Homo sapiens: one gene and its partner. The protein of the gene in region 1 purifies or fractionates together with the protein of each later gene. This does not show direct contact. Each region holds a gene or a part of one and is shown in the gene's direction. Other genes may lie near its edges.

Region 1 (3,800 bases):
TTAACATTATTTTTCCAGCATAATGTTGGCTTCTGGAATGCTCTTATGTAATATATAAACCGTTACCTTTATAAAATCTGAAAAATTCTTAAACAGATGATAAATAAGCAAAAACAAAAACAGAAACAAAAACAAAACAAAAAATAAACCCAAAAAAACCACCCCAAACTAATAAAGTTTAACTTCAACAAAAGGATATTGGCTTGAGGGAGGTTGTGTTAATCTATCTTTTGAATTCATTTTGACTGTTGTAAAGATAATTATAGCTTGGCCTAAATTTGCTTCTTACTACCTGTGTGACTTTAGGTAAATCGTTTAACACTGTACTAATAAGATTGAACTGGATTTACAATTGAGGTACAGTTAAACTCTAAATTTCTTGGATTTTACATTTCCTTTATTGATCACATAAAATATTTGATTTTGATCTAGGTAGATTATTAGGTTATTTCAGCATTTGGAATTTGTTTTGTGCTTATCAGTAATAAAAAACAAGTTAAAATACTGTGTTTTTGTGTGTACACGTTTCCAATTTTTAAGTTTCTTGCATTTTTAGTGCTTGTGGATGCTCTCTACGTTTCTTATAGCATCAGTGCTTTTAAGAGTTTAGTGACTAGTCTATATATTTCATTATGAATTAGAAATTACTAGAGGTCAGTAAAGATGTTTCTCTAATTTAGTGGTTCTTCACTCTATTTGGAAGGGGGTTCATTATTTGTAGATGCCGTTTTAGTAGGTGTTTAGGAGGTGCATGAAGATAAGCATATCTTTTGATGAATGTCTGGAATTGTTACTTAAAATTTTTAAATAGAGAAAGCCCATCAGACTAACAGCAGATCTCTCTGCAGAAACCCTGTAAGCCAGAAGAGAGTGGGGACCAATATTCAACATTCTTAAAGGAAAGAATTTTCAACCTAGAATTTCATATCCAGCCAAATTAAGCTTCATAAGCGAAGGAGAAATAAAATCCTTTCCAGACAAGCAAATGCTGAGAGATTTTGTCACCACCAGGCCTGCCTTACAAGACCTCCTGAAGGAAGCCCTGAATATGGAAAGGAAAAAACAGTACAAGCCATTGCAAAAACATACCAATTGTAAAGATGATTGACACTATGAAGAAACAGCATCAACTAATGAGCAAAATAACCAGCTAGCATCATAATGACAGGATCAAATTCACACATAACAATATTAACCTTAAATGTAAATTGGCTAAATGTCCCAATTAAAAGACACAGACTGGCAAATTGGATAGTTAGAACCCACCAGTGTGCTGTATTCAGGAGACCCATCTCACATGCAAAGACACACATGAAACATTTACCAAGCAAATGGAAAGCAAAAAAAACACAAAAAAAACAAAAGGGGTTGCAATCCTAGTCTCTGATAAAACAGACTTTAAACCAACAAAGATCATAAAAGACAAGGGCATTACATAATGGTAAACGGATCAATGCAACAAGAAGAGCTAACTATATATACATGCTCCCAGGATCAGGAACACCCAGTTTCATAAAGTAAGTTCTTAGAGACCTACAAAGAGACTTAGACTCCCACACAATAATAGTGGGAGACTTTAACACCCCATTGTCAATATTAGACAAACGAGACAGAAAATTAGCAAAGATATTCAGGACTTGAACTCAGCTCTGGACCAAGTGGACCTAATAGACATCTACAGAACTCTCCACCCCAAATCAACAGAATACACATTCTTCTCAGCATCATATTGCACTTATTCTAAAATAGTAAAACACTCCTCAGCAAATGCAAAAGAAAATCATAACAGTCTCTCAGACCACAATTCTAATTGCAGTCAAATTAGAATTCAGAATTAAGAAACTCACTCAAAATTGCACAACTACATGGAAACTGAACAGCCTGCTCCAGAATGACTACTGGGTAAATGATAAAATTAAGGCAGAAGTAAATAAGTTATTTGAAACCAATGAGAACAAAGACACAACATATCAGAATCTATGGGACACAGCTAAAGCTGTGTTTAGAGGAAAATCTATAGCATTAAATGCCCACAGGAGAAAACGAGAAAGGTGTAAAATCGACATCCTAACATCACAATTAAAAGAACTGGAGAAGCAACAACAAACAAATTCTAAAGCTAGCAGAAGACAAGAAATAACTAAAATCAGAGCAGAACTGAAGGAGATAGAGACACGAAAAACCCTTAAAAAAATCAATGAATCCAGGAGCTGGTTTTTTGAAAAGATTAGAAAAACCAGACCACTAGCAATACAAACTGTTTTGTATTGGGAAGGCTGTTTCATCTACATTTTGTATTGGGAAGGCTGTTTCATCTACATTTTGTATTGGGAAGGCTGTTTCATCTACATTGAAAATCTGTTGATTAGTCACTTCCATTAATTATCTTAGCTAGATCTTCTGGATAATTTGCTATGGTTTCTGTATCAGCACTTGCTGCTTCTCCTTGCGCTTTTATCTTACGGTGATGAATTCATTCCTTAAACTGCATTAACCAGCCTCTGCTAGCTTCAAACTTTTCTTCTGAACTCTGAGCCTTCATAGAATTGAGGAGAGTTGGGTTCTTGTTCTGGATTGGGTATTGGCTTAAGGGAATGTTGTGACTGATTTGATCTTTTATCCAGATCACTAAAACATTCTCCCTATTAGCAGTAAGGCTGTTTTGCTTTCTTAACATTTGTGTGTTCACTGGCGTAGCACTTCTGATTTCTTTTGATAATATTTCCCTTGCATTCACAGCTTGGCTGTTTGGGTTAAGAAGCCTAGCTTTCTGCCTATCTCGGTTTTAGATGTGCCTTCCTCACTATGCCTACCTATTGTTTCTAGCTTTTGATTTCAAATGAGATACCTGTAACTGTTTTCATTTGCACACTTAGAGGCCATAGTAGGATTAATAGGCTTAATTTCAGTATTGTTGTGTCTCAGGGAACAGGGAGGCCTGAGGAGAGGCCTCCCTGTTCCCTGGGGATGGCTAGTTGGTGGAGCAGTCAGAACACACACATTTATTGATTCCTTTTTTTCTCTAATGTTCATTTTCTAGTTACATATTTTAGCAGTGGAAGGTATCTTAGATAAAGCCTGTTATTTTACTTAAGGTGAAAATGAGTGTTCATGGTCATGGAACACGTTTTTTTTTGATTTAGGATGATAATCCTGCCAGTAGTTTTAAAATCCATTAGAAAACCTTGCTAAGATAAGAGTAATTTTGAGGCTAGGCCAAGGAGAACAGAAAATATGGCTGGGAAAGGGAAACAAGATGAACTTGGACCAGATGTGCTCAGAGTGGAGGTTGCATTAATAGGATATCAGTTTGTCCCTTCCCAACCTTTGGATGTAGGGTAAAAGACATCTCTCAAGAATCTTTCCCTGAATTCCACCCCATCTGCTTCCTGACTAGGAAAGGCCCCTACTAAATGATCCCCTGGGACCTGCACCACTGCTTAGTAACTAACACTTTTCATATTCATAATTATTTGTTTGGTGACTGCATGCTCTTCTAAAATAAAAGCCCATGGCTAAATGGAGACTGTTTGGTTCACCCTTAATTGCCACCGTAACACAGTGCCTGTTGCCTGGTAAATAACTGCTGGTTAATAGGCTGCAGTGCTATCAGTTTAAATAAAAGGATTGGTTGATTACATTTACACAAGTGAAGAAGATAAGGGAAAGCATAAATACTTTTAGATTTGGTAATAAAGACAGTGTCTTCCCTCTTATTGATCATTTTGGTTCTTAGATTTTGATAAGCAAGACTTGTCATCCTATTTTAGCTTTATAATGTAAAGTTCTCTATTTAAATT
Region 2 (3,718 bases), on another chromosome or scaffold:
TACTTTTCAAGTTTTTTTTTTTTTTCCTATTGGTTTGTTTTGTGATTTGATTTTTGTTCAACTTTTGAAGTAGCCATTAGTGGGAAGGTTAGTCTGAATCACCTAGCCTGCTGTTTTCAGAAGCAGAAACACCTGACTTTATGTTCTTCATATATGGTTTTACCATCCTGTTCCCTCTGTTTGATTTTAGAGAGATTCCCTAGTTGCCCTATCCAATGTAGTAGCTCCTAACTACATGTGACTGTTGAGCACTTAAAATGTAGCCAGTTTGAACTGAGATGTGCTGTGAATGTAAAATATATACCAGATTTCTAAGACTTACTACAAATAAAACAATGTAAAAGATTTTAAGTTTTATAATTGCATATTAAAATAGTATTTTAGCTATATTAGGTTAAATAAAATATTATTAAAATTAATTTCCCTTGTTTTTACTTTTTTAATGTAATTTAAAAAATTTTTAAATTACATATGTGGCTTGTGTGTGTGATTTGCATTATGTTTGTGTTGGATGGTGTTTGCTATGTAATAAAGTAGTTAGAACACAAGATCTGTGGTCTGGATTTGATTCTTGCCTATACTATTTACTAGCAGTGTAATCCTGGGCTACTTTTTGAACTTCTTGCTTTAATTTTCTCTTCTATAAAATGAGAATAATAGTAATATCCATTTCAAAGATATATTGTGAGGGGAAGATAAAAGACGTAAAGCTGTTAGCACAATCGATAACTTTAAGTGTTGATTAAAATTTAGCCACTATTTATGTTTTTGTTATCATTGTTGCTGTTATTATAGTATCAGATTTTATACTTCAGTGGGTTTTTTCTTTCTCTCCCTCAAAATTTTCCACATTACTCATAGTAATAGAGTTCTTAGCTGGATACTGTAATTTGACTGGGGACAGACATATGTACAAATTACATAAGTGAGGAAGGTGTCACAAACAAATGCTCATTAAGTTTGGCTGTAGAAAATTTTTAATGCTTCTCCAAGATAATATTACCTAAAATATTTCTGTAGACTGGTAACTATATAACCAAGCTTTATAATTATGGTCCAGAAAGGAGTCACATAGCCAGGAAATGGTGGTGTGTTGGAAACAGTATTGTTCTGGGACTTGAGGCCTGGGCTGTAGTCCAAATTCTGCCACTGTGTTTGTCTAGACTCCAGTTTCCTTATTGTAAAATTGTGAGGTTGTATTAGATGCTCACTTATGCCCCCTTTAAGGTTATATAATTTTAACATATTAATACCTACATTTCACATATTTTGAATCTACAGTTTAATTATCCTTAGGTTTTTCAGCTCATATTAGAATGGTAAGAGACTGAAGATAAGGTTACAGGAAGTATAGAGTCATGGTAAGATAGAGGCACAATTTTTTCACCCAGAAAAATCTTACAAGATGCTTTAGGTTGTAACTAAACTATTTTTTTTTCTAGAATTGACTTTAATTTTACTACAGTAAAATGGAAACTTTAGATTGTATTATATTAAGATACTACATAGATAGACATTATTATTATAGTTTAGTGGAAAGATTGCTGGCCCTATCGGAATATCTGGGTTTTAACCCCAGTTTTGCCACTAGATAACTTAAGTAAATCCTAAACAGGTTTTTTTTTGTTTGCTTTTTCCATATGTAATAATTTGGACTGTAATAATGTAACACCTCACTCAGAGTATGCACTTGAAAAATTAATTCTTACTTAACTGGTCTGTCTACTGTGTAGGATTTGCATTAATATTGTGAAAACACTTTAGGGGAAAATAATTTAAAATATATGAATAGACATATAACTTTTCTTACTTTGATTATTTTTGCAAATTTGTTCTATTTAATCTTAAAGGGATTGTTTCTTTGTTTTCAAAGTATAGACCATTGAGAAAGAGGGAAAGCTCCCCAGTATATTTTATGAAGTTAGCACAACCTTAAACCTGTTAAAGCAAATTTAAACCTAGTAAAGATAGTATAAATACACAAACTGTGTACATGCACACATGTATACACACACACACACACACACACACTCCTATGTGCTAAAGTTTCAAATAAAATACTAGCAAATGAATTCAGCATTGTATTTAAAAATTATATATATTGACTAGAAAGGCTTTATCCCAGGAATATAAAGATGACTCTACACTACAAAATCTGTACATAATTCATTATAGCAACATATTAGAGGTAAATTTATAACTAAGCCAGTAGGTATTTCTCAAAAAGAAGGAAAATCATTTGATAAAAATCTAACAACTTCATTCATAGGGAAGTGCAGAGTAAAGCAACAGTGAGATGACATGCAGGACTGGCAGCATGTGAAGAAATAGGCAATCATACCTTGATGCTAGTGTGAAGTGTTACTGCTTTTTGGGAAAAAAACAACAATAGCTTCTGAAATAAAAATGCACATTATCATTTGAATATTCCTGTTTCTGGGAGTCTTTCCTACACAAAATAATATATTAATATTAGTGTATACTATAATGTTAATATATACTAATATAGTAAATTAGGACTTATATGCAGGGATATTTGTTTCATAGTTTGTAATAACTAAAAATTAGGAACAACATGAATGTTGATCACCGAAGGAGTGACTGAGTAAATTATTCTACACTACACCGTGGAATATAGTGTAACCATTGAGCAGGAGGGATAATATTGTTGAGTATGGAATGGCAAATTATAGATTACTGTGTATAATGTAATCCATTTTTTAATAAAAAGGGAGAAGCCTTATATATGTTAAATGTGTGCATGAGCCGTGAGAAATGTGTGGGAGTATTGAGTTAAGAGGGGGTGGGATAGGTGAAGTGAGAATATCATTTTTATTTCATATGCTTCTGTAGTGTTTGATTTATTGTGAAGAGCATTTATTTTTGTATAACCACATTTAATGAAGGAAAAATGCTAAATAAATTCAAAGTATGAGCATGTGGGTTCCAAAGATGCTGCATTTGGCCAGCCAGAGACATGGAAAATGTAAAAGTATTATGCTACACCTTCTATTGTGGAGATATTTGTTATAATTTCCATCCACAACTATTATAACATTACTTCTGAAAAGAAAGATATCTTATACTAAGAAATGGTGGCATTAATGATTTTTTTCTTTTATAGCAACTCCGATCCAATATCCGAGAAATTGAGAAACTTTGTTTGAAAGTCCGAAAGGATGACCTAGTACTTCTGAAGAGAATGATAGATCCTGTTAAAGAAGAAGCATCAGCAGCAACAGCAGAATTTCTCCAACTCCATTTGGAATCTGTAGAAGAACTTAAGAAGCAATTTAATGATGAAGAAACTTTGCTACAGCCTCCTTTGACCAGATCCATGACTGTTGGTGGTAATGTATTGTGCTAAGTCTTATTCTCAGTCACAGTAGTGCAGTTAATTAAAGATCACCTCCTTGAGTAGATACTGAATTATCTATAGGTCTTCAGAGACCATTCACTATCCCAATATGCTGAATCCTTGGACCCTGATCAGTGTTCCTGGAAATGTGTACCCTGGATATTTTGCAGAATAAAAAATTTAAGGCTATGCTTATGGAGTGGGACTTCAGGGAAAGTACCCGTTTGTCTATTTATTGAAGAGAAATTTAAATATATTTCCTAAGGATAATGTCATTCTTGTCTGCAAAGTACTCTTTACTCCTTTCCAGGTGCAGGGGTGACCTCTTCAGGCATGCTTTTTTTTCTTAAGCATTCTGAT

The links.
Region 2: the proteins of DIPK2A (region 1) and STX17 purify together in Homo sapiens (affinity purification with western blotting; one study listed by BioGRID). This does not show direct contact.

The regions. Positions count from the first base shown.
Region 1 is NC_000003.12:143,981,560-143,985,359, forward strand, and holds part of DIPK2A (divergent protein kinase domain 2A isoform a precursor), read left to right. Parts: intron 1-3,800. UniProt on the Homo sapiens protein: May play a role in cardiomyocyte proliferation through paracrine signaling and activation of the PPI3K-AKT-CDK7 signaling cascade.
Region 2 is NC_000009.12:99,947,936-99,951,653, forward strand, and holds part of STX17 (syntaxin-17), read left to right. Parts: intron 1-3,124; coding exon 3,125-3,350; intron 3,351-3,718. UniProt on the Homo sapiens protein: SNAREs, soluble N-ethylmaleimide-sensitive factor-attachment protein receptors, are essential proteins for fusion of cellular membranes.